Homo sapiens: one gene and its partners. The protein of the gene in region 1 interacts with the protein of each later gene in a pairwise test. Each region holds a gene or a part of one and is shown in the gene's direction. Other genes may lie near its edges. The genes, in order: PKP4, DSC3, CDH5 and CDH2.

Region 1 (7,029 bases):
GAGGTGCCCCAGGCCCGGTTACTGGGACTGAACGAATTGGATGACTTACTAGGAAAAGAGTCTCCCAGCAAAGACTCTGAGCCAAGTTGCTGGGGGAAGAAGAAGAAAAAGAAAAAGAGGACTCCGCAAGAAGATCAAGTTAGCATTTTATTTTATATGAGACTCTCAAGTTTAATTTTTCTGGGAGTGAGGAATCACATATTTGGCAAGAAAATAAATTTTCTGCATAGCTATAGCTGAGTCCCGCAAAGGTGAATGTTTTCAAGTATTGGAGATCATGTTCATTCTGCCTCCATTTAACGTGTGCTGTTTGTCTTTCAGTGGGATGGAGTTGGTCCTATCCCAGGACTGTCGAAGTCCCCCAAAGGGGTTGAGATGCTGTGGCACCCATCGGTGGTAAAACCATATCTGACTCTTCTAGCAGAAAGTTCCAACCCAGCCACCTTGGAAGGCTCTGCAGGGTCTCTCCAGAACCTCTCTGCTGGCAACTGGAAGGTAGGATGACTTCCACTTATCTACACTTCTTTCCATCTTTGCAAACTAACTTGAAATGTTATATATATATGTTCTGCCTCAGTCAGATCAGCCCTGATGGTGAAAGGGTCACAGCTACTTAGCTTGTGTGTGAAGGGGTTAAAGGGAAAAAAGGGAGACAAGCAGTTGCTCTGGGGATACAAAGATAAATACAAGTCCCTCACTATGAGAAACAGAAGGCTAGTGAGAAAAACAGATGGTGCCAGCACAGTGTAGAAGCCACAGGATGTATGTGCTGTGGGGTCCTGAAAGAAGACATCTAACCCAGCCACACAGTGTAAGGGAAGGTCAGGAAAAGAGCGGAGTAAGGACGTGGAGGAGATTTCCTGAAGGGGATGCTGCCCGGCAGAATCTCTGAAGATGAGTGAAAGTAAGCCTGTAGAGGCTGAGGCTGTGGTATGGAAGGAGCCATCCAGATAACAGGGACAACAGGAGGAGGACAGTCTTGTGGTGCAGAGAAGACGTGTGGGCCAGGACTACTGGCTGCCCACTGGGGCCCACCATGGAGCCAGGCATCATGGATAGGCCTGAAGGCCAAACTTCAGGAGCTGAATCCTAACCTACACACAGGAGGGACTACCGAAAGAGTCTGGGCAGATGAGTGACAGAGACGGGCTAATATCATCACTGCTCCCCCACTTCCATGGCAGTGCAAAAGGTGGATTCGAGGAAGGGAGAGTTAGAAGCAGGGATTGGATTTGGGAGCCAGTGCAGCAATACAAAGGTGAGAAATCTTGAGTGGCAGGACAGAACACAGGTTGGGCAGCACTGTGGGGAGGGATAGAGGACCTCTGTTCCTCTCAGACCGTTACAGACATGCCTGTGTCTAAGGTTTCTGCATCTTTTTGCAAATGTATGAGTATGAAAACTGAAGACAGTTTCCTTTTGTTACCACTGTAAGCAAGTTCTCAGAACTTTCTAAATGTCCCCCAGCAACTTCCCAGACAGTCCTTGTCTGAGACATTTTCAACCTCTAGTAATTTCTTGACAGGTGTATTTTAGTAGAGTTACTACAATGCTTGCTGTGGGCTTCTTCCCCCACCTTAACCCCCCAAAATGAGAATCTTTTGGTGATGGTGTTTTCAAGATAGTGAAAAGCATTGATAAGCCTAGGTATGGTTTGTTTCGTGCACGTGGCCACTATGTTGAATATAGAGCGATAACTATGGTCTAGTGCTAAGCCGGTGTGGTTATTTTGTTGTGGCTCCTAGTTAAAGTGCCAGTGACTGAGTGTGTAAGTGCTGGCTCTGAATCCAGGCCACTCTGCTTACCGTCTGGCAGCCTAGGGGCTCTGCCCACAGTTTCCACCTCCCTAAAATAAAGTGAATATTAATACCTGCCTTATAAAGTGGTTATGAGGATTTAGTGAGATACTCCCAGCACATAAGTATTTATAAACATTTATGTTGTAGAACAGCGTTCACCTTCAGCTTCTGTGACCAGAGGATCATTTGATGATAATAAAAGACAGTAATTGAAATCGATGTGATTTGACTTATTTAGAAGTTCATGTCTGGGATCATTTAGTGAGAGAGTTAGATGGCAAAGCTCATTTAAAATATAAACATTATATCTAAGCGATTTCAATAGTGAGTTAAAATATTGGACCTTCACTAAGAAAATGAGATAATCGTGGCCACAGATGTTATCAAGTAAGAAGCTATTTCAGGAGCAGTGATGACTGTAGTTCTCCAGAAGGGAGACGGGCTGGGCTGGGCTGGGCTGGTAGGTCTCCAAGTGAGACAGAAGGAGATGGTTCTGTTGTTGCAGGTTTCAGAGAGAAGTTCATAAAACTGCCTGAGTGCTTTGCCTAGTAACCAGTCATGTACTTCATTTTCCCCCCATAGATTTCATGTGATTTGAAAAATAGGAGTATGCATTTCATATGCAGAATATAAATAGGATCTTTGAAATGCATCTTTCCCTCTTATTTGTATTATTAAAATATTCTGTTGGTATTCAAGAAACTGGATGGTCAATCACATATTTTAATGTTCGAAATAATACAAAGGGCTGGTAGATCTCTGTCCTACTGTCTTGGTCACAGCAGGAAAGTATATGTTTTATGAGCAGCATCTTTCAATTACCCTAAAATTTGAAAGATGATTTGCATTGGTTGAAAAAGTCAATTAAAGCTCAAAGCTGGAAACAAGATTAAAGAACCGTTTTCTAACGTTACTCTTTTTGGTTGTTTCACTGATGACTTAGCGCTCATTTCCATTTTATAAGATATACAAACTGACTCACAGTACAGAGTTGCTTCATAGTCACAGAAAAATTTCTTGACTATGGATTTTTAAAAAACAGCATCAGCAGCTAACTAATCTTGAGTGAGAATGCATTTTGCACACAAATATACTTACTTTTTCACCAGGCTGTATGAATTATGATGCTGGATGTTTCTGGAGATTTCCCTTTCTTCTGAGGCAAGGGATTTTTCCAACTAATCTCTTTGACAGGTTTCTGAACTCGAAATATTGTTGCAGGGAATATAGAAAAAAAATGACTTGATGGAGACAGGTTCTCCTTTCATGTGTGCTGATGGGTTACTGTCTCTGCCATCCTATTTATAGCCTCTGGGTTTGGCAGGGGACCAACTGCAAAGAAAACACACGATCCTTCCTTAATCATGTTTATGTATCTGAGATAGAAAGTAATCACTGCCTTCTCTTTTCTGCACAAAAATATCTGGCAGATGGTGGTTTGAGATTTTCAGGCTTTGGGATTTCTTTTTAAATCAGTCATTCCAGCCTATCTTTCTCCCCAACTTTGGTTTTCTCTTCACTGACACCACAGATTTGATCTTCAATTGGAAAGAAACCATTTAATCTATTAGTTCATCTTTTGGAAACATCTTTTTTAGGTGACAGTAACATATGAGACTGGAACTCTGTTTTATGTTACTTCCTGCCTTATTTTTCTCACTAGTTTGCAGCATATATCCGGGCGGCCGTCCGAAAAGAAAAGGGGCTCCCCATCCTTGTGGAGCTTCTGAGAATGGATAACGATAGAGTTGTTTCTTCCGTGGCAACAGCCTTGAGGAATATGGCACTAGATGTTCGCAACAAGGAGCTCATAGGTATGTTCTGGTGACAAGATGAGCTGTAAATGTGAGAGCAGCTACAAAATTCATGAAACTCTTCTTTTGATTAATAAATATATGGCTTGTAAAATCATTAACAGCTGAGCCCTAGTCTCCAGTTTCTTGGCATATTTGAGTACTCCTGTTTTGTGACCATTCTTTTTCAGCAGGAGGCAAGCTCATTAATTAGTCATTGATTAGGGAAGGTAAATTTTCAGAAAGGCCAGCAATTTTAGTTGTACCTTACAACACTAGTAGGGTTAATGTCTCTCATTTCTAAGAGAGTTCTCTATATCCTGAGCAACAAAAAATCTTAATCTCCCTTTCCAATTTTTGGACTGCTACCTGCTAATTCACCAACACTACCATACTCTAAATAAAAAATCACATGAATGTTTTGTAGCTTTCCCCTCTCACATTGGTATAAATCTTTATCCCAGAGAAGAACCACTGTCCCAACATCATTTCCACCCTGGGCAGGGGCAGGACTAGGGTGAGCTAAGCAAGGCGCCAAAGGCACAACATTTTAGGAGGCCTTTACTCTCAGGTTTGTACAAGGTAGGGTTGGCACATGCACAAACCAAACAGTGAGGACCTCTGTACGCTCCGCACCCCAGGCAGCTTGCTTGCCTCTGCGGCATTGCCACATCCTAGGCAGGATGCGGGCTAAAGAAGACATCAGGGACCCCCATAAACCTGAGCTTCGTTCCCAGGATGTGCTGCTCACTGGCCATGCAACCTGGGGTATCCTATATAACCCCGTTCAGGCTCCGTAATTCTATCTAGATTGGAAATGAAAGGCAACTCCTCATCTCTGAAGGGGAGCTGTTGATGCCTGCTGTCCTAACTGGGTTTGCTGTAAAGAGGAAATGAGAGAGCTCCATGCCAAGTCCCACAGCTGGTGACAGGTCAGGGGAGAAGGAGGGGAAATGGGACAAGATCTTATGTGGATTCATGTGAATCTATAGTAAACTTAAAATACACCTGCCATGAGAGAAGGAGAGAGAAACAAGGGCGATGATGTTTACCATAAAGAATTGCTGTAAGGATTAAACGTGATGACTTACAATGGAAGCCCTTCACACAGTGCCTGACAGAATTGCTATTTTGAATTGTTGCCCAGATTAACCTGCTCTTAACACACCATTCCTTTAAGCCAAATCATCCCCCTACGGAGAGGAAAGGAAGTTCCTCCTCACCCTGTTCATGGTCCAGCTCATGCCTGATTCTTGTAGATGTGCCATATCTCTCAGTTCCCACACTTCCTTTACAGAAATCCTTCAGGTCCCTAAAGAGAGATATTCTTTAAAGTTATTTTTCTTACGTCTGTATTGTTTGGATTTCTTATAAGAAGCATGTATAATTTGGGCATTTTTAATGCTAAAAAATAAATGGTTGACACGTATATCCTGTGGCCTGTCATATTTCACAACGCAAAGACACAGGTAGACAGGAGTCCTTGAGCTGGTACTGTGAAGTGCTAAGACCTTTGGCAAGAGGAATGTGTGTTCCAAGTCTTGGCTTCCTCTCAGTGCATTTCTGTGTTTTCTGTGAATAACCCTTTTTAACTTCCACTGGCCTTCTGCCTCTCCAGTGATGAGCTTTTTTTTTTTTTTTTTAACCTGGCTGGAGCACTCTTGAACTGTTCCATCAGTCTGTTTTTTTGTTTCCCTATTCCCGTCTTCCTGTGAGATCTGCCTCACTCTTGGATTCAGTATTTGGCTCTAATTTACCCAGTACTTCAGTTCCTAGGAACCTTCCCCTTCTCTGACCTCTTCCCTCTTTTTTCACATTCATCATCAGCACTAGCAAAGGACTTTCTTTTCAGAGCCATTTTTCACAAAGAAGCAAAGTTTTATCACTTCATAAAAGTTACTACATACTCAACTGAGTGGGACCCACCCTGCTGTCTGGAGCTGCAAGTTCTGAGGGGACCGCCAGGCTCACTCATTCATAGGCAGAGTGAGCTGCCTCGGCCTAACCCCCAGGAGTGCAATTTAAAGTTATGCCTTAGCAAAATGACAAATTACATGTCATGGGCCTTTTGGTCATTCATGAGTATTCAAAATCACCAGAGCTAACTTATCATCTGCTCTGAAAACCACATTTATCTTGTGGCCTTACAGTGTCAGCACTGTTTTTCCACTCTTCATAGCAGTGTTTGTCGTGAGCAAGCCAGAGCCTTCCCTCTGACGTGCTGTACATCACACAGCATGTAGCTGAGACCTGTCTTCTTCTGCTTACCACTGTAAATAAACAGGCCTTTATAAAAAGCGATTGCACATCCACTCAATTATTAGCATAGGGGAGAACTAAGAAGATGTTTACTTGCACTTTAGTTCATTTCTTTTGTTTGTAGTGCACTTACAGTTTGTCAGTTGGTAATCGAAGTTGAAAAAGCTAGAGGTAATCTCTTTTTGGAGAGGAATAAGAAAAATTCAGTATCTATAAAGAAATACCTCAATAACTGTGAAACTCCCCTTGCCTTGTCTTAGCAAGAATTTCATTATTATTGCATTATTCCTGGGAGATAACATACCTATAATTTTAATACCAGAACTTTTACTTGTGTCATCTTTTAAAGAAACTAACATGTTGCCACCGTTGTCAGATGAGTTGCTGTACACCTCAGCTCTATACACAAAAATGTGTAACTGTACCCAGTTCATACATTAAGATCCAGAAAGATCTAACGAAAAGTATTGTTTGGCAGCCTGACTTGGTCCAGATTCAAAGGTAAGTTTTAAAAAGCTCTAAGAGGAAATTGAGGTATTTGTGATGCATAGGAATTCCATTGAGAATAAAATTTACTATTATAATTCCTTCATTACTCAATGTTACTGAAAATACTCGAACGAAAGTAACTTGATTTGTCTACCCAATTTTACGCATTGATTTACATTTGCTTTCAGCAATTGACAGTAATGTTTTATAAATGAATCATTTCTGCAAGTGACGTTGCAATAAATGTTAGCTTTCCCCTTATAATGACATTTGTCCTTTTCTTCTTTGCCATGGGTTTTGATTTTTTCCCCTATTATTGTCTCTTTGGGGGTTTTATTTTTAAGAGATTGCATGCCACCAGAATCTGAACAACAATAACAAAAACCTAGTACCTTCTGGAAGTAGAATTTACTCTTTTGCCGTTGGCAGGCAAATACGCCATGCGAGACCTGGTCAACCGGCTCCCCGGCGGCAATGGCCCCAGTGTCTTGTCTGATGAGACCATGGCAGCCATCTGCTGTGCTCTGCACGAGGTCACCAGCAAAAACATGGAGAACGCAAAAGCCCTGGCCGACTCAGGAGGCATAGAGAAGCTGGTGAACATAACCAAAGGCAGGGGCGACAGGCAAGTCTGCGGCAAGGAGGTGCAAGCAGTGCTCTTATTCCTGAGATTGTCCTGTGATGAGGCC
Region 2 (7,029 bases), on another chromosome or scaffold:
GCCCGCCTTGGCCTCCCAAAGTGCTAGGATTACAGACGTGAGCCACCGTGCCTGGCATCTTTAAGTACTTTTTAATCTCAGTGAGTCATCTTTTATTTGAAAATCAAACACTGTATAATCATGGTGTTCAAAATCCATGTTTCTGTCATGTAGGCTATGTACCTAATGATGACTAACCTTTTGAGTACTGATTAAAGAATGACATCACTATGTTGTTAACTCTAAAGGAATCCTCCTCTTCCAATGCCCTGGTTCTTCCTTGCTAGTCAGAATTATATCCAGGGAAAGAGTGCATGTTATTCATTCCTTTATACCTCAAAGAGTTAAGTAATCAGTAGGCCAAACCAAGAATTGCTCTGGTATACTTTTAGCTGAATAAAGCTTGCAAACATTGTCTTACTAGTTAGCGTCTCCTTTTATTGCAATATATTGGCTGTTAACAAAAACATACAGCATTTATTCCCTTCATTCGCCTCTGTGACAGCTTGAGAGATTACTCAGAATTTAGTGTAAAGCCTTATTTTATGCTGTAGTGTTAAATGTCATTCTTACAACAATTTCACAGAAGAGAAGAGTTAAAGAGACTAAATAACTTTCCCAATGCCACACAGCTAGGATGTAGTGTAGACAGAATTTGAACCTAGCTCTTTGACTCTAACTATACGCTGTCAAGCACTATGTTAAATTGTTTTCCACAGCTGTGTGATCTTGGAAAGTTGGCCTCTGTGTTATCTGTAAAATGGGAACAATACTTCTTTCTGCCTCCCTAATAGCTCTTCAAATATAATATTGAACGTAACAGCACTTGGTAAACTGTGGGATATTATTATTTTATTTTAAAAAGTTATGCTATGTCCTTGAGACTAGTGTTATAATGTTCCAAAATAGATAACTTTTCTGTAACCACAAAGCATGAGTGATACAGGCTTTTGCTGTGTTCTGGGTAAACTCATTCCACCTCAGTGGCTTCTGTCCATTGGAGCAGCAGCAGTGACGCATATGGGCTTGAGTGAGGATAGTATTATTCTTGGTCCTTCTCAACATGGAGAGTCCTCAGCTCCATTTCCACAACTATACATTTTCTAGGGAGTTGTTAACATCTCAGTGCAGATGTGGGATATTTTTAAGCACTTTTTTTAAGTGGCGAAACAAAAACGTACCCTGAGGTGGAAGAGAATTTACAGGCTTTCCTATTAATTAATGAGATTAACTAATCCCATTAATCTTTAGGATTTCATCTCACCAGATTTTTAATTTTGGAGAGTTTTAAGCTACTAAAACAATATCCATCTTAAGCCTCGAAAAATGGGACAAAGAAACTCCAAGGCTTCAGCGAGTGTTTCTGGATTGAATAGTTGCACCTCCTCCAGTGCAGCAGCTGTTCTCTAAATTTCCATCCATTTCTCATTGCCAGCAGTTGCTCTTACTCTCTGTGTGATCACACCAGCACATGAAATGTGTGAAACAGTATTCATCAGCATCAAACGAACAGATATTAATATTTTTTTCCTTGACTCTCCAGTTTGTGGGATATACATACAAAATAAAAAAAGGTTTTACATATGTTTTGTAGATTCTAAGATTCAGAAACTTTCTTGACTTTTTAGTGGACTCGTGATACTAATGTCTTACTCTGTTAATACCTAGGTGTGGAGAAAGATTTAAAATAATTTTATTCACCAGTTTTGATTTTGTTCAATGTTTAGCCAGTGATTGTTTTGATAAGCAGAAAGAGAAATTGAAGAAAAAGTGCTTCAACTTTATAGTACAGTGTAACATAATGTTTTATGGGTTTTACTTGATTTGTTATCTAAAACTGAATTTTAGTCAAAGATTGATTTGGAAATTTTTTAGAGATCAGTGAGCCAATTAAGCAGCACACGATAGCAGAGGGATTATAGCGTAGGCTAAGGAAATGGACTCAGGTCAGACTACCTGGCTTCAAATTCAAGCTCAAATGATTATCTTTTGGTCTTAAAAAAAAATCAGTTTATCTCCTTTTCCCGTTTTCTGCTCTGTAAAATGAGGATGAGGTCAATAATACTTACTTCATAATGTCATGAGGATTTAGTGAGTTTATTTTCACTGTTAGAGTAGTGCCTTAGATTCAATGATAATTAAAATCAATCACATAGTATTTCCCTTACTCCTCTGTGTATCCACTGTGAATGTTTCATTGGATAAATTATAGACAATGCCAAAGTATAATTCTCAAGTTTTCAAAAATGTAATTTTCATAAAAACAGGTAGTGGGCATGGATGGATAAAGGTTTTAACTCATTCATGAAGGAACCAGCAAAAAGACAAGTTGATTCCTAAGAAGAAATGAGACTCTGGATGGATTTTGATAAAAGAAAAGCAGCAATTAGATGGCTCAGTTAGATGCCTTAGAGGGCAATTAAAACACACATTTGGGGCCGGGCATGGTGGTTCACGCCTGTAATCCCAGCATTTAGGGATGCCAAGGGAGGTGGATCACCTGAGTTCAGGAGTTCGAGACCAGCCTAAGATGGCAGAACCCCATCTTTACTAAAGAAAAAAATACAAAAATTAGCTGATTATGGTGGCACGTGCCTGTAGTCCCAGCTACATGGGAGGCTGAGGCAGGAGAATCGCTTGAACCAAAGAGGCAGAGGTTGCAGTAAGCCAAGATTGCGCCACTGCTCTCCAGCCTGGGTGACAGAATGAGGCAAGACTCTGTCTCAAAAATAAAATAAAAGAAAATAAAATACTGGAGATATCTTTTCTATGAGACAGAAAATGAAATCATTGCACCTTTTGGTTTTGTGAAAGTCAACATCAAACTTTACAAGAGTTATAAAATGCCTGGGCCATAGTCAGTAGTAACTGATAAGCCAAATAAAGGCAACTTCCCATACTCAGATGACCGTTAGCCCAGCCTGTTAGACAGTGCTCCAAGCAGGACCATAAGAATACTGTCATCTGTTTGCATTACTTTTTGAATCAGAGTAATTTTCCTTAGTAAGAGTGAAATATGAAAATATTTCCGGAATTTCGTTTGTCCAACTCTATGAAACTACCTGCAGAAGTTGTTGGACCATTCTTGGTAGAGGCTTAGCACGGGATCCACTCTCTGTTTAGCAAGGGATAAAAGTCAGTATTAACAACATGTGAACATAGAATTTATGCAGCACTGGTCAGGATGACAAATGTTCACTTGCCATTTGAAATGCCAGATGTATTTTACACTGACACTGATATACATGGACTTTATTTTAAAGCCACTGAATTATGAAGAAAACCGTCAAGTGAACCTGGAAATTGGAGTAAACAATGAAGCGCCATTTGCTAGAGATATTCCCAGAGTGACAGCCTTGAACAGAGCCTTGGTTACAGTTCATGTGAGGGATCTGGATGAGGGGCCTGAATGCACTCCTGCAGCCCAATATGTGCGGATTAAAGAAAACTTAGCAGTGGGGTCAAAGATCAACGGCTATAAGGCATATGACCCCGAAAATAGAAATGGCAATGGTTTAAGGTAAAAATAAATCTATAACCACATACTAATAATGTATTTGTAATCATTGAGATAGTAACTTATTTGAAAACATTTTCTGATGCTAAAGACTATTTTTTTTTTATTAACAGGTACAAAAAATTGCATGATCCTAAAGGTTGGATCACCATTGATGAAATTTCAGGGTCAATCATAACTTCCAAAATCCTGGATAGGGAGGTTGAAACTCCCAAAAATGAGTTGTATAATATTACAGTCCTGGCAATAGACAAAGGTAAAAAAAAAGTTTTAATCTGGTATTCTATAAAGGAATTAGAGAATAAAATGTAATTATTCTTATGCAGATTTATTTTGGTGGTAAGTGTATGGAATTCTTTGAAATTACTTTAAAGACTCTTTCTGTCTCTCTTAATTATCTAACAAGGTGAAACTGTTTGGTGACAAGAAGCCGTGTTTTATTTATCTTTATATCCCCAATAGGGCAGGACCTTAAATTCTTATGTATTTCTATGCTAGAGGACAAAAATAAAACTGAAATCTAAAACTAGATAAAATGGTCTCATCAGACTCTTCCACATCCGTTTGTGTCACTTTAAATTGAGCTTTTATATAGTTCAGCTGCATATTAGGTCAAAATGATCCTTTTCTTGAATTCTGTTCCTTAAAGTAACCTAGAGTTTTTCAACCTTGTCTTCACATTAAAATAAAAATATTAATCTGTAGATACTTTGTTAGACTAACTGAATCAGAATATCCGGTTGTGGAGCCTAGGAATCTTATATTTTAAAAAAATCTTCCTAGTGGTTTGAATATATACTGGGATTAGAAATCTTATCTGTAACCACTTTACTGCTTACTAACATGTGGCACCTGGAACCCCCAAAAATAGAGATTGAAATTCAGACATTTATTTTTATTTGGTAGTAATTCTGGTAAAAGATTTATTGACAGTTGTATCTGATATTATCAGTAGCAATAGTCATTTCAAATTAGCTGCAGATTCTATTTATCTGTCTATGTTCTTATTTATTTATCATTTCCTTTAATAATCAGTTTATTTAAAAACAGATCATGTATAGAATATAATTGACTTTTTATTCTTTAAGAAACTATGAAAGAATTTTAAAATAACACTAAACCTTATTCCTGTCTCCTTAGATGATAGATCATGTACTGGAACACTTGCTGTGAACATTGAAGATGTAAATGATAATCCACCAGAAATACTTCAAGAATATGTAGTCATTTGCAAACCAAAAATGGGGTATACCGACATTTTAGCTGTTGATCCTGATGAACCTGTCCATGGAGCTCCATTTTATTTCAGTTTGCCCAATACTTCTCCAGAAATCAGTAGACTGTGGAGCCTCACCAAAGTTAATGGTATTTAATAAAAAATAATGATTTATAAACTCTGAAATAACAGAATAACTGGAGGATAGATTGACTTGCTTACTTACACAAAGCATGAAGTAAAACTGAGTCTCATTAATATATTTTAGAAGGATAAACTAACCTTTTACAAATATTATATGGGGGCTCTGTTATATATAAAATGAAGGAAGATGTAATTTTTATGAAGGCAACATTTACATTTACAACAAAGGAAAGCTTTGTTAAAATGTTGGGCAGCTTATCATTAAGACAAACTTTGTGTGTGTGTGTGCATGTTTTTAAAAATAATGCCAATGGCTGGGCATGGTGACTCATGCCTGTAATCCCAGCACTTTGGGAGGCCTAGGTGGGTGGATCACTTGAGGTCAGGAGTTCAAGACCAGCCTGGCCAACATGGTGAAACCCCATCTCTGTTAAAAATACATAAATTAGCTGGGCGTGGTGGCAGGCACCTGTAATCCAAGCTACTGGGGAGGCTGAGGCAGCAGAATCACTTAAACCAGTAGGTGGAAGTTGCAGTGAGCTGAGAGATGGTGCCACTGCACTCCAGCCTGGGGGACAGAGGGAGACTCCGTCTCAAAATAATAATAATAATAATAATACCAGCGAGGTGAGGAGAGAGCAGAAGATGTGTAGTTTAAATTGTATTGTAAGCTGACTCTGGAAGTGAGGAACTCAGGTGTATAGACCAAGCACTCTAGGGTATCCTGGAAGTGAACCTGGCGGGATATAGCAAGGGATATGGGAAGGAGTATTGAGGGGCTGCTGCCTATTGTAGCAGTTTCTGGGGGCTGTCATGTTCTGTACTTCATCCATACTTCATTCTGTTGTTACTGCCATGTTCTTTCATGCAACTGGGCTTTTGTGTATATAGCCATATCTACATAGAATACCTCCTTTTCCATTTCTTAGCTTGATATTTATGAGCATGATATTTTTTTCATGATATTTATGAACATCTACTATCTATTAAGCACTCGTCCAGATCCTGAGGATTTATATAGAGATGAACAAGACAGACACAATCCCAGCTGAGATGCTCCACCTCTGAAGTTTGTCTTGAATTGGAAGGAGTGGCACCATGACCCTTCGCTACCTGCATTGCAGTGCCTTTCCTGTTGTATTAACATCTGATTACTTCTCCCTTCCAATACATGAGTTTCCTAGAATGTTTGCAATTCATCTTTGTACTTCCAGCACCTAGCCTAATGCTTAGTAGATACTAACTGCTTCATAAATGTTTGCTTGTTCAATAATTGATTAATAATGTGCATAAAAGAAGAAACATACCAGGAGAATAAGTATATCCATGTCATTAGAGTTTAGAAGGTTTTAGTAAGAATGCCAAGAGGTTGGGTGGAAGGAAGGGTAGCATCTGGTGGTGAAGGGCCTTGTGTGCCAGGCTGAGGGGACTAACCTTGGTACAGTAGGCAACAGCAATTATGCATTGGGAATGTGCAAATAAGGCAATGCCATTCCCAGATTTACATCTTTTAAAGGTGACACTGTTGACAGGAGGACAATATGAAGGGGGCAGAGTTGAGTGAAGAAAAATCAGAGGCCAATGCACTACTGTGAATAACTGAGACATGACAATGGCTCCACTTGTTGTCTTGAGGGAGCGGAGAGATTTCAAGGATCTTACCTTAGACACAGTGTGGTCTTGAAGGGTCCTAAGTAAACCCAAGTGGTAATTCATATTCCTCTAGGGAGCCTTCAGGTATGAGGTGCAGCCAAAATCTTTGAAATTCTTACAGCTACAGCAGAGCATTTAATCAAGGCTTAGGAATTCCAGATGACTTCCAGGGTGTGTATTATGCTACTTTTTCATTTTACTTAGTCTATTATAAAAGCTCAGGGAGGCTGTAACTGCCATTGAAATTCTGTGGAGCTTTTGGTTAGTTGACAATATGGTCATTAAAATAATAGATCAAGACTATTGGGGAAAATTGACTATCAGAGTTGATAAAAGTGAATTGTTATATAGATATTTCTGTTTTGTGTAAGCCTTATAAGTAGCCTGAGTGACATTAATTAGCTTCTGGTACTAAGATTACTTCCAGATGCAAAGGTGTTAATCGTAAACAATCTATTGTGCTTTGAAAAATTACCTTATCCATATGAATAGTGCGCAAATACTAGAAGGTCAATGGATA
Region 3 (7,029 bases), on another chromosome or scaffold:
GAGGCATGGCTTCTTGCCTCTAGTCCAGCTGTTCATCATGCATCCTGGCCACTGGGCCTTAGTACCTCCTCATGAACCCACCTGCCCCCTGCACGCCACAGCCTTGCTCCAAGATGCTTGTTGCTGCCCACCTCTCTCCCACCCTGCCCGACCAAGGGGGCAATCCTCACTCCCTGTCTCCACTTCCTCCCCTTCTAGAATCTTCCCTAGGCTGCATCATCTAACTTCCCACCCTATCAACCCCTGTCAGTGCCCTCACTGAGGGCTCCAATGACTGCACTGCTGCTAAACCCTGGGGACACTTTCCAGACCTCATGGGATGTGGCCATACCCTCTGGAATCTCCCTCTTCTTTCTTGAGACCCCAGCCTCTCTTGAGTTCTCTGGAGGAGTCCAGCCTTTTTTTTTTTTTTTTTTTTTTTTGAGTCTGAGTCTCGCTCTGTCACCCAGGCTGGAGTGCAGTGGCGTGATCTTGGCTCACTGCAACCTCTGCCTCCCAGGCTCAAATGATCCTCCTCCCTCAGCCTCCCAAGTAGCTGAGACTACAGCTGGGTGTGCCACCACACCCAGCTAATTTTTTTTTTTTGTATTTTTAATAGAGATGGGGTTTCACCATGTTGGCCAGGCTGGTCTCAAACTTCTGACCTCAAGTGATCCACCCACCTTGGACTCCCAAAGTGCTGGGATTACAGGCATGAGCCACCATGCCCCCCGAGTCCAGCCTTTCTAAAGAGTCCTCACCAGATGCCTTCACACAAAAGCCCTTGCTCTATTTGACTTTAAATAATGTGAGGCAGACTCAGTAGCTCATGCCTGTAATCCCAGCATTCTGAGAGGCCAAGGCAGGAGAATTGCTTGAGCCCAGGAGTTTGACAACAGCCTGGACAACATAGTGAGACCTCATCTCTACAAAAAAATACAAAAATTAGCCGAGCTTGGTGGTGCACACTTGTAGTCCCAGCTACTCCGGAGTACCTGTCTCAAAAAAAAAAAAAAAAAAAAGAGGCTGGGCGTGGTGGCTCACACCTGTAATCACAGCACTTTGGGAGGCCAAGGCAGGCAGATCACTTGAGGTCAGGAGTTTGAGACCAGCCTGGCCAACATGGTGAAACCCTGTCTCTACTAAAAATAGAAAAATTAGCCAGGCACGGTGGCACATGCCTATAATCCCAGCTACTCAGGAGGCTGAGGCAGAATAATCGCTTGAACCCAGGAGGCGGAGGTTGCAGTGAGCCAAGATCGTGCCACTGCACTCCAGCCTGGGCAACAGAGCTAAACTCAAAAAACAAACAAACAAACAAAAAAGCAATGTTGCACTTCCTCAGCATGCCAGCCTCTGAGGCTGCAAACCTAGATCCTGAGAGCCACAATGGGATCTGTACCCTCTGTACTCCTAGTGGGGGCCTGGCACCTCCCAGGCACCAAGTTATATTTTTTAATTGAATAGAATTCTATTTTGGGGACATACTAACCTTCTATGAGAGTATCATTGTATATGCATAGAATACTATTCTATAGGAACTATACCGTTCCTAATATTTTCTGTTTCTATGATTCTTTAAATGGAGATCCTCTAACCTGTGGCTCTATTATTGATAATTATTAGCTAGCATTTATAGAACCCTGTTTGGTGTAAGATGCTTTACATATATTATTTTCCAAATCTTACTCCTTGGGACATGAACAGTACATGTTACACAGAAAAATGGTTCTGTGGTCTAAGAAGTATGGAAAATCCTGAGTTACACAAAGCTCACTGGAGTTCTTTTCTGCAGAGCTGTACATTGTAAATCTCCAAGAAGAGAATATTTTATGCACCATTTTCTGTACTGGGCCCAGGGGTGTGCTGATATATGTTTGACAACTGGCTGTCCAGGGGAAAAGTTCTGATGCGTAGCACTTGCCAATTTCCATGGTGTAAATATTCTCACCATGTCTCATTTCAAGCTATCAATGTGATGTCATCGAAGGCCAAGACAAGACAGGAGAAGATCCTCATGAGCACATCATTATGTAGCATTTCCATCATACAGATACCATAAACACAGATAACCTCAAAACACAGTCAAAGGTAGCAAAACAATTAGGAAGCGATGAATTCTGAGAATTCGTTGTTTTTCATGATTTATTTAATTGTAAGTTCATATAATTTAATTTGTAATAGTGGCTGTATTTAACAATCAGCTCACAAATATTCCTGAAAATTTAAGCTGGTTCTTGAAAGCCAAGCTGATACAATCCAGCGCCAGCACACCACTGGCTAGGACCCCATCTTTGCGTGGAACAGCAGAAGAGTTCAGTGTTTCCCAGAACTCATCTTCAAAAGTGCTGTTCTACTCCTCAGAGCAAAGCAACATCAGAAGCAATATTTCCATTTTACAAATGAGGCAACTAAAACTTAGAGAGGTTAAGTGACTTCTACAGGGCAAAAATATCCTTTGCCTTCCAATGGCACCAGGTATATTTTTTCCACTCAAAAAATGTTTTCTAAGCACCTACTCTGTTCAGGCACCATTCTAGGCATGCTGGGGCTCTGCCAGGCAACTCACACCATGAGAACAACTCATTGGTGACTAGTCAGAGGTTCTTTTTTTTTTTTGGCTTTTTAAAAATTTTATTTTCAGGGGTACATGTCCATGTTTGTTACATGTATATTGCATATTCGTGGGGATTGGGCTTCTAGCATACCCATTACCCAAATAGTGAACATTATGGCCAATAGGTTATTTGTCTACCCTCGCCCTCATCCCAACCTCCCCTCTTTTGGAGTCTCCAGTGTCTATTATTTCCATTTTTATGGCCATATGTACCAATTGTTTAGCTCCTACTTATAAGTGAGAATATGTGGTATTGGATTTGTTGCTTCTGGGTTAGTTCACTTAGGTTCATTTAGGATTATGGCCTGCAGCTCTATCCATGTTCCTGCAAAGGACATGATTTTATTCTTTTTTATGGCTGCCAGAGGTTCTTGATAAAAAATCTCAGTATCATATTTAGGGACCCTGGCCAGCACCACACACACCACATACACACATGCACAGGCACACCTGTGTACACACACTCTCACTCACACACTCACACACAGCCACTGCCGCCCATTCCCAGCTCACGTCACCTCTTCTTTTCTAGATCAAGTCAAGCGTGAGTCGCAAGAATGCCAAGTACCTGCTCAAAGGAGAATATGTGGGCAAGGTCTTCCGGGTCGATGCAGAGACAGGAGACGTGTTCGCCATTGAGAGGCTGGACCGGGAGAATATCTCAGAGTACCACCTCACTGCTGTCATTGTGGACAAGGACACTGGCGAAAACCTGGAGACTCCTTCCAGCTTCACCATCAAAGTTCATGACGTGAACGACAACTGGCCTGTGTTCACGCATCGGTTGTTCAATGCGTCCGTGCCTGAGTCGTCGGCTGTGGGTACGTTGCATGCCCACTCTGTCCTCCTCCCTCCCTCATCCCCAGCCTGGGGGCACCTCTCACATCAGCCACTTCACTGCCTGGGGTAGGAATCCAGTGAGTTCAGGGTAGTGATTGTAATGCCTGTGTTGCCACTTTACATGATTTGAAAGAAACTCTAGTTCCTAACAAGCTCTGATCTGGCCACAGGCTGAGCTCTGACCCTAGTCATAGACCAAGCCCTGATCCTAATCATGGACTGAGCCCTGACTACAGTCATAAACTTGGCCCTGATCCTGATCCTGGACTGAGCCCTGATCCTGATCATGGGTTGAACCCTGACACTGGTCACAGACCAAGCCCTGATCCTGATCGTGGACTGAGCCCTGACCCTAGTCATAAACTTAGCCCTGATCCTGATCATGGACTGAGCCCTGCCCCTAGTCATAGACTGAGCCCTGATTCTGATCATGGACTGAGTCCTGACCCTAGTCATAGACTGTGCCCTGATTTTGATCATGAACTCACCCCTGGCCATCAGAGGCATATCTCACTACTCTTTGGAACAAACTTCACTCACTTCCTCTGACTGTCAGGACTAGCACACCAAGAGTGTAGCCTTTACATGTGACGACTGTCATGGCCTGCCACTAAGGCAAAAGGATTCATCTCTAGGGGCCATGCAGGAGTGGTGTGGGGGACAGAGCACTAGCCCCAAGGTATGTCACCAGCCTGGGCTCTGGGCTCAGGAGGTTACTACTCCACCTCTTCAGTACACCTCAGACTCCAGAGGGTGCCAGAAAAGAGCTTCCCTCTTCAGTCCAGAGTCTCCAGCCAGGGCCCTGGGACCAGACCTTCGGGTTGAGTGTGAGATCCTGGAGTTCAAGGGGATGCAAGAAATGACACCACTCCTTTGGGGGCACCTTTCCAGGAGAGGGAGAAGCAGCTCATTGCTGTCCTCCATTTCTCTCCCTGACCCCAACCCTCCGCCCCCTCCCTCATTTCCCCAGGAAGCACACAAACCACCTGATCTCTTTGACCCCTTCAAGGTTGACCTGGCTGGGCCCCCACTGCCACCAGCACTTTGCCCCCATGCAGGCTCCTCAGAAAACAAAACAGCCTTTTATTCCCAGGACCTGGGGGAGGTGGGGACAGAGCACAGCCTGAGCCCCATCTGCTCTGTTCCAGGAATGGGGTAAGGGGCCTAGCAGTCACAAGTCAGCAACCCCAGGATTCTCTCTCTGCAGGGACCTCAGTCATCTCTGTGACAGCAGTGGATGCAGACGACCCCACTGTGGGAGACCACGCCTCTGTCATGTACCAAATCCTGAAGGGGAAAGAGTATTTTGCCATCGATAATTCTGGTCTGTGTGACTAACACTCCTGGACAGTCACTGATTTGGAGGGACAAGGGGAGGTGGATACTCCAGGTGCATGTGCTAAGGGAAGTCCAGTCTGACAGGTGTCACTAGCTACTGAACCACACTGTACCATGGAAGTAGTCAGTATCATATGTAAAGACAAGGCGGCTGGTCAAGGGAGAAGGAAGCAGGCAGGTGCCCAAGAGGTGGACTCAAGTCCAGGGAACAAAATCAGGATCTTGTTACCCAAGAAGTGGCCAAGGGGCAGCAGAGGATGGTGGCTAGCCGCTCTGGGTGCAGGTTCAGACAGATCTGGTTTCCAAAGCCAGCTCTGCCACTCACCCCCTCTAGAGACCTTGGACAAATCAACTAACTTCTGCAAGCCTTAGTTCCCTCATCTAGGAGGTAGGAATGCTTATATTTATATCGTATGGTAGCTGTAAAGTTTGAGTTAGATCATGTATAAAGGCAGCAAGGCCCATAGTAATTGCTTATGTGATGACTTAACAAAAAATATAAGGACTGACTCTTGGGAGCAAGAAAGAAGTCCAGTGGAACTGTCTTTCAGAGAGATGGCAAATACATAGCACAGATGCCACTACTATGCTACAGTGCACCAAGGCAGACATCACTAATCTATCACAGCACTCTTTCCATCTGAGCCTAGATATGGCCTCATGGTCTTTGTCAACACAATATTTCAGGTGGCGAGGACCAATACCGAACCCAACTATTGGGCCAGCTTTGGCCTCACAGTATAGGCTATGGAGGTAGTGGGTTGTAGACTCACAGTTCTCAGCCCCATTTGCACAGTGGAATCACCAGGGAAGCTCTTAAGTCAGGTTCTCTCTGGGCAGGCCCTAGGCATCGGTATTTTCTAGAAGCTGGTAACATGGTTCCTGCTGGGAATCTTTTTGCAGGACGTATTATCACAATAACGAAAAGCTTGGACCGAGAGAAGCAGGCCAGGTATGAGATCGTGGTGGAAGCGCGAGATGCCCAGGGCCTCCGGGGGGACTCGGGCACGGCCACCGTGCTGGTCACTCTGCAAGACATCAATGACAACTTCCCCTTCTTCACCCAGAGTGAGCCCCTCCTCTAGGGCCCTGGGAAGGGGGGCTGGGATACCCCAGACTCAGTGACTTGGGGCTCTGGGAAAAGAGTTACAAATCACTTTACCTCTCCCTCTATCCCAGGGTAGGCCTGATGCCCAAAGGAGTCCTTTGGGTGAAGGGAGGGGCCCTGCTTCCATCCCAATACCACATTCCCAAGGCCATCCTGCCGCCCCCTGCCACAATCCCCTCATAGGCCAGAGGGAAATCCCACTCCCTGCTGGGTGCCACCACTGTACTGTGTCCCACCATGAGACACAAGCAGTTTCACCCAGATCCCATGGGCTTGGGAAAATCAAAGCCCTGAGACTCAGGTCCCAGCTAGAAATTCCCACAAGCCAGTGAACATGGGGACAGCAAAGTTCTATATCCAGAGCCAGGGCTGGGCCCTGACCCCACCTACACACTGATCCACCCCACAGAGAATGTCTAATGAGAGCTTTTCCCATGCCTGGGGCAGATGGCTCTCCACTTGCAACTCCCAGTGCTGATACTGTCATTCAGTTGTTCAGCCACCCTAGAGACAGGCCAATTGTCCTGAAGTGGCTTCCTCGTACATGGCATAAGCTCCCTGAAGGCAGGACTTGTCTCTCTTGTCCATTGATAGGTCCCCTAGCAAAGTGCCTGGCATACAATAGGTGCTCAATAGCTATTTATTGGATGGAGGGATGGATGGATGGACATACAGATAGGGAAGACCCTCTTTACCTTGAGAATCCCAGGGGTATTATTATTTATGATTATTTTATTATGCCCATTTCTTTTATCAAAATATGTTAGAATAGCTGAAAGAGGCAATCGCCTTGTCTATCTCATTAACCCAAAGCCCTTTGGGGTGCTCTGTTTGCATCAGCCAAGTACACATTTGTCGTGCCTGAAGACACCCGTGTGGGCACCTCTGTGGGCTCTCTGTTTGTTGAGGACCCAGATGAGCCCCAGAACCGGATGACCAAGTACAGCATCTTGCGGGGCGACTACCAGGACGCTTTCACCATTGAGACAAACCCCGCCCACAACGAGGGCATCATCAAGCCCATGAAGGTTTGTAGGCCAATGGCAACAATGTCAAACGTGAGGCTTGGGGCTCTTGGCACCCACAGGTCCTGCTTGGGGATTGCTCCTGGGCCAGAGACCATCAAAGGACCATCAAAGCTCCAAGG
Region 4 (6,694 bases), on another chromosome or scaffold:
GGATGGATGGATGGATGGGATGGATGGATATTAATCAGATAAAAAATATAAGAAGTATAATTCTAAAAAAAATGAATAAACAACATAGAAGTGCACAAGAACATGATGCTTTGGGGTTTGGGGGGATTCCCTTTGGGGGTGCATAATTCAGTCGTGGTTGCTGGAGCTGAGAATAGCTGAAACAGAAAAGGTGGGTAAACAGTCTTGGTTCACTGAATGCTTTCTAAAGAGTTTTACTGTATGCTGTAGGTTACCCAACAGCAGGCATTTGAGTTAACACCTTCCAGTTTTTTCCCTCTCTGTGTACTTCTTGTTATTTTCTTAAACTGTTCATCAATTTTTAAGTTAATTTTCTTAAATAATTGTTTTAAAGTGTTCATGCACCAATTAAAAATCATTTTGCCCATTGTCGGGGGAACTCTTTCATTTGGAAGGAGTCATAGAGAGCAGTCAGAGGTCTTACTTGCGGGAGTGATATCAAATAACGTTTGAGACAGAAACCAATAGTTTGTAGGAAAGAAGCTGGAACAGTGCTGGAGACAGGCGAAGACCAGTTAGGCAGGCTTTTTCTCTGGTCCAGGCAAGATATAATGATGACCTCCACTAAAGCAGTGGCACTAGGACTGTAGAAGACAGAATGTAAAGGAAACAGTAAGACCTCTTTTCTTTTACATCCCTCATGTGTTCCTCGCTGGATAATGTGGGTTTTTATCCTCATAAAAGCATGTCTCCGCCCATAAAGCCTGGGATCAGAAGTCTATAAATACAAGCTCAGCAAGAATTCAGCCAGAGCCAAGCTCTCTCACTCTGCAGAGAAGCCTCAGTCTTTAGAAGACAGTTCAGCTTTATCCAGAATTCAAGATCTACCTCTCCAGGAAAGGTGGAACAAGAGGATACTTTGCTAAATTTAGTCAAACCTAGAGAAACACAGGCGTTTAGTTTGTAAATTTGGTAACAGTACATCCTGTGAAATAATGTTCATATCCAAGAATAAAGGAATCCCATAAGGGAGAACCAGAAGGTTCTGTTGCCCACTGGATTTCTTCTGTACATTCACTCAGATTTCGTGCCTGTTACTGTCAGTTTCTTAGGACTTCAGTGCGATCTTTTTAGAATTACCAAAATATTACCAAGAGTTTATATAATACCTCGTTCAGAAGAGTCATATTTTATTCTCAGATAAAAATCAGTGCTATCCAAATGGAAGGGATTTAAAGTACTTAACCTGCATAGAAAGCTGGCTTGTCTAAGAACTCTTGAAAAGTTCAGTGATTTTGCCCTTTTGTAATTATTAAAACATAAGGCAATGTGCCGTGCTCTAGCATAGCACAGTGGTCTCTCTCTAATGGATTTTATGGCCTTAACCTCTTTAAAAAAAAAAAAAAAAAAACAGAAATAAAGAAAACAGAGATTTGTAAACTACCAGGATGATCAGAAAGCCAGGGCAGGAGCTAAAAAATAAAGAAAATAATATTTTTTAGACTCTCAATAGTGGATATGGGAGTTGATTATCACAAGCATTATATTTATTTTAAGGAATTGAATTAGGTGGCTTAGTCATTTGATGAAGAGTCCTGGGGTCCGTGAACACACCAGGGAAGACCAGACCCCTTCTTGTGTTTATTCCCTGGACATAGTAAACACAGGCCATCCCTTTTTTCTCCTCCAAATTCAGACACACTTGAGGCCTTGCCATTGACCCTTTCGGGCTAATTTGAGTCTTTTTTTTTTTTTTTAACTTGTCATTCTCTTTTTCTTTCTTTTTCTTTTTTTTTTTTTTTTACTATTATACTTTAAATTCTGAGATACATGTGCGGAATGTGCAGGTTTATTACATAGGTATACACGTGCCATGGTGGTTTGCTGCATCCATCAACCCATCATCTACATTAGGTATTTCTCCTAATGCTATCCCTAATTTGAGTCTTGACCTCTCCATATTTCCAGTTTGGTGTTGACATCATAAGGATTGGGCCAGGGCTCTGTGTGTATTTTCGCTTAATAATTAAATTGTGGTAAAGCAGATGACCTGAACAAAGTGATCTTAGCCATTGTCTCTGTTGTCTGTATTATAAAGCAATTGTCATAATGAAAATTTAATATTTGTTTTCAGGGACCCATTCTCCTTATCAGGAATTTCCCTGATTTTTCTTGTTTTTTCTTCAGATCCTTCTTGGGCCTACTTGTATGACCCCAAGTCAGACAATGCTGAACTAAGGCAATCCGCTGTTGGTTAAATTTGCAGTTGCTAGATCTTGTAGGGAAGAGGAGTGTAGGCTAATATGTGAATATTAACTCCACGAGGGCAGCCATTGGATCTAGCTCATTAGTAGCTGTGTCTCTACCAGTTAGCAGAATACATTGCAATAATATTAATAGATAATCAACAAATACATCTTGAATCTAATGAATAAACACAAACAAAATGAATGAAGGTGCATTCTTCGGCTTTTGTTAGCTAAGGTACCAATCACTGACCACTCCAAAATATTGCTGCTTATAATAATGAAGGTTTACTTCTTACTTAAGTTGTAAGTCAGCTGTAGTCTGTCAGTGACTCAGTTCCTGATCCATATGTCGTCTTCGTTTCAGGATCCAGGCAGATAAACTTCCCATCTGGAGCAGGCCATTCTCCTGGCAGAGGGGGAAAGGGGGATTAGTGGAAGGGTGGAAACACATTAGATAGAGTTCTTGAAGCGGGTACTTTTCACAGCTACTTACATTGCATTGGCCAAAGCCAGTCAGACAGCCAAGCCTTACAGTGTGGTTGGGAAAGTAAACCCTGACCCCAGAGAGGCTCTGTGGGAGTGTGGGTGTGTGTTCTGCCTTCAGAAAAAGAGCAGTGAATCACTGAGGGCAGTAACACAATCTACCACAGAAGGGAGTTACAAGTTTTGAGAAATTGTAGGTTGTGGTTCTCAGTCTTAGCAGAATTGCCTTGTAGCTTAGTCTAAAAATAAGATAAAATCCTATCTAAAGTTATTTATGTTGTATATATCAAAGTATTTTGCTGAAACCTGCTTTATTTTATTTTACACAGGCTTTTCTGGAGTATAAACAGTATAAAATGACATGACGAAAAGTAGTAAAGTACTGCTAAATTTCATGGATTGTTAGTAAAGAGGTACCTGGAGATGAGAAAACTGGTCATGTGTACTTTTTTCTCTGATTTTTGACGTGAGTCAAGCAGCTGCCATTTTGTTTCTTAAAATATATCTTCATCGTTTCTTATTTTTTCAAATCCCAAGGCAGGACATTTTTCTCAAAACTTAAATTTTTTAAAAATACTAACTAATATTCATTGAGCTCTACATGTGCCAGTCACTGTGGTGAGACCTCGGGTCCCTTTATTGCATTTGGTCTTTATAATAGTCCTATTATTATGATTACAGTTGTAGATGAGGTTAAGCGGAGGTCCCACAGCTAGTACTGGGGAGAGCTAAGGTGTCATCTCACAGTCTGATCTCTTAACCACTACACCATACTGATTCTGACCTTAATTTTTTTGCTCTTCTTCCCTGTTTCTCCTTTGTAACCTTGAAAGGATAGGTGAACACATGCTCATAAAAACCCATGTATGCGCTCATAAAATGCATGTGTATTGGCAGGCTTGATCTCTCAAGGGTAGGACTGTCTGTGACACATCTTAGATAGGTGAGGCCATATAAGCCAACTAGCATTTGACAAGTAGAGTGTGGAAAAAGCAAACGATTGTTTGGAGACTAATGTTAGTGTATCTAGGAGTACTAGAATGGAATTGGGGGAAAAAATTAAGTAGAAAATATACCAGAGGACCTAATACTAAATCCTTAGAAGTTTTGCAGAGCATAGAGACTCTAATTGTATATTAAAAAGCATCTGCTTACAAAAGTTACAAATATAGATAGTAGTTATTTCCTTGTTTCTTTTTTCTTAAAATTCTTTATAAGAACCAGATAACGCATGTTATTTTAGATTGACAGGAGTCCTCCTCTTTTCAATATTTATACCGTGTACAGATATTGGATTATGACATTTCTAGGATTTTTTGGAAGTTAGAAGATACCCTATTTTTTAAAATACCAGTTTACAATTAATTAATTCCACATTTTATGCTATGTTAGTCACATAAATGATTTTCTGAGTACCTCCCTTTATGTAGTAATCACATCTGACCTGTCTTCAGTCTTCCTTTGATGTCCTTCCAAAATGAGGTCAAATACAATGCTACTTTCTCTTTGAACTCCTAGCTCTTAATGCTGATGTGAATTTTTTTCCCCCACAACCTGATGGCTTTTGCTTTGACTTCATAGTTTTGTCACTTGTCATTTGCTTCACACAGTAGTAATACCTGTTATGCTAGACTGTAAGCCTGTGGAGGGACATGGACCACATGGTACTCATTTGTGTGTCTCTTGTATTTCAGTGAGGTGCTTTTTTTAAATTTAATCTAGCAATGCTGCTCTATATATTATGTTATTTAAGATCCTTTCTTCTCTGCCTCAAGCAGGGCCATTCATTTCTGCCACCTGTCCAACTTATTACCCAGTTAACCCCCTCCCTTCATAAGCCTTGGCCTCCCTGAGCTTGACTGCTTAGGGTTGTTTCTTTGCACCGGAAAGATATAAGTTAATTTTTGTCCAACTTTCAAATGGTTATATCTCCCTTTTCCATGTGTTGAAAATATGGTATGTAAATGGAAATTTACAAACAAGTGTTTGTTTGATCCCGTGAATTCATTAGGATCTGCTTGTGGTTTTGTAAAGTGTAACCCTCTCTTAATTCTTTCATTCTTTGTGTTTCCAAATTGCAGGGCCTTAAAGCGGCTGACAATGACCCCACAGCTCCACCATATGACTCCCTGTTAGTGTTTGACTATGAAGGCAGTGGCTCCACTGCTGGGTCCTTGAGCTCCCTTAATTCCTCAAGTAGTGGTGGTGAGCAGGACTATGATTACCTGAACGACTGGGGGCCACGGTTCAAGAAACTTGCTGACATGTATGGTGGAGGTGATGACTGAACTTCAGGGTGAACTTGGTTTTTGGACAAGTACAAACAATTTCAACTGATATTCCCAAAAAGCATTCAGAAGCTAGGCTTTAACTTTGTAGTCTACTAGCACAGTGCTTGCTGGAGGCTTTGGCATAGGCTGCAAACCAATTTGGGCTCAGAGGGAATATCAGTGATCCATACTGTTTGGAAAAACACTGAGCTCAGTTACACTTGAATTTTACAGTACAGAAGCACTGGGATTTTATGTGCCTTTTTGTACCTTTTTCAGATTGGAATTAGTTTTCTGTTTAAGGCTTTAATGGTACTGATTTCTGAAACGATAAGTAAAAGACAAAATATTTTGTGGTGGGAGCAGTAAGTTAAACCATGATATGCTTCAACACGCTTTTGTTACATTGCATTTGCTTTTATTAAAATACAAAATTAAACAAACAAAAAAACTCATGGAGCGATTTTATTATCTTGGGGGATGAGACCATGAGATTGGAAAATGTACATTACTTCTAGTTTTAGACTTTAGTTTGTTTTTTTTTTTTTCACTAAAATCTTAAAACTTACTCAGCTGGTTGCAAATAAAGGGAGTTTTCATATCACCAATTTGTAGCAAAATTGAATTTTTTCATAAACTAGAATGTTAGACACATTTTGGTCTTAATCCATGTACACTTTTTTATTTCTGTATTTTTCCACTTCACTGTAAAAATAGTATGTGTACATAATGTTTTATTGGCATAGTCTATGGAGAAGTGCAGAAACTTCAGAACATGTGTATGTATTATTTGGACTATGGATTCAGGTTTTTTGCATGTTTATATCTTTCGTTATGGATAAAGTATTTACAAAACAGTGACATTTGATTCAATTGTTGAGCTGTAGTTAGAATACTCAATTTTTAATTTTTTTAATTTTTTTATTTTTTATTTTCTTTTTGGTTTGGGGAGGGAGAAAAGTTCTTAGCACAAATGTTTTACATAATTTGTACCAAAAAAAAAAAAAAAGGAAAGGAAAGAAAGGGGTGGCCTGACACTGGTGGCACTACTAAGTGTGTGTTTTTTTAAAAAAAAAATGGAAAAAAAAAAGCTTTTAAACTGGAGAGACTTCTGACAACAGCTTTGCCTCTGTATTGTGTACCAGAATATAAATGATACACCTCTGACCCCAGCGTTCTGAATAAAATGCTAATTTTGGATCTGGTGACTGGTTTGAACTTTTTCTTTTCTACTTGAGCTGCTTTGAATGTTGCAAAAATCCCAAGTACTGGGAACAACAGTACAAAAAGTATGTATTTGTTCTTGCACTATTCACCATTGAAACGCGTAGCATGGCAACCATGTACGGTGTGCAGCAGAGAGAATCATTTTGGACCTTCCCATCATCATAGAAGAAAAACATCAAGTGATTCAGGAATAGACCCTACTGGTGGTGATAGAAAAATCACATCCTTTACCTTCAGTGAACTTCGGTGTTAATTCTTAATATAACTCATGTTTTAATTTGTTTCTGCTCAAGTTAATTGTTCTGTTGACTGACAGGCCTTTCCCATTAGAGCCACCACCATAAGGGAAACTTCAGTAAAGTGGGTTATAGGACTGAACCTGGAAACTGCAGTGGACACCTGGAATTCTTGTGCAATTCATTGAAGCCATCGTTTTATGTACTTAGTGAAACACACTTAGATTTGACTGGCCTTTATCCATTGACT

Evidence for each region.
Region 2: the proteins of PKP4 (region 1) and DSC3 interact in a two-hybrid assay, tested with the Homo sapiens proteins (one study listed by BioGRID).
Region 3: the proteins of PKP4 (region 1) and CDH5 interact in a two-hybrid assay, tested with the Homo sapiens proteins (one study listed by BioGRID).
Region 4: the proteins of PKP4 (region 1) and CDH2 interact in a two-hybrid assay, tested with the Homo sapiens proteins (one study listed by BioGRID).

Annotation. Positions count from the first base shown.
Region 1 is NC_000002.12:158,662,951-158,669,979, forward strand, and holds part of PKP4 (plakophilin-4), read left to right. Parts: coding exon 1-138; intron 139-321; coding exon 322-495; intron 496-2,897; exon of another isoform or gene 2,898-3,131; intron 3,132-3,462; coding exon 3,463-3,613; coding exon of another isoform or gene 3,614-3,627; exon of another isoform or gene 3,628-3,714; intron 3,715-6,769; coding exon 6,770-6,965; intron 6,966-7,029. UniProt on the Homo sapiens protein: Plays a role as a regulator of Rho activity during cytokinesis. May play a role in junctional plaques.
Region 2 is NC_000018.10:31,004,739-31,011,767, reverse strand, and holds part of DSC3 (desmocollin-3 isoform Dsc3a preproprotein), read left to right. Parts: intron 1-3,242; coding exon 3,243-3,499; intron 3,500-3,609; coding exon 3,610-3,752; intron 3,753-4,636; coding exon 4,637-4,861; intron 4,862-7,029. UniProt on the Homo sapiens protein: A component of desmosome cell-cell junctions which are required for positive regulation of cellular adhesion. Required for cell-cell adhesion in the epidermis, as a result required for the maintenance of the dermal cohesion and the dermal barrier function.
Region 3 is NC_000016.10:66,383,681-66,390,709, forward strand, and holds part of CDH5 (cadherin-5 preproprotein), read left to right. Parts: intron 1-3,128; coding exon 3,129-3,417; intron 3,418-4,643; coding exon 4,644-4,760; intron 4,761-5,677; coding exon 5,678-5,842; intron 5,843-6,695; coding exon of another isoform or gene 6,696-6,722; coding exon 6,723-6,910; intron 6,911-7,029. UniProt on the Homo sapiens protein: Cadherins are calcium-dependent cell adhesion proteins. They preferentially interact with themselves in a homophilic manner in connecting cells; cadherins may thus contribute to the sorting of heterogeneous cell types.
Region 4 is NC_000018.10:27,950,458-27,957,151, reverse strand, and holds the end of CDH2 (cadherin-2 isoform 1 preproprotein), read left to right. Parts: intron 1-2,524; exon of another isoform or gene 2,525-2,634; intron 2,635-4,792; coding exon 4,793-4,999; 3' UTR 5,000-6,186; downstream 6,187-6,694. UniProt on the Homo sapiens protein: Calcium-dependent cell adhesion protein; preferentially mediates homotypic cell-cell adhesion by dimerization with a CDH2 chain from another cell. Cadherins may thus contribute to the sorting of heterogeneous cell types.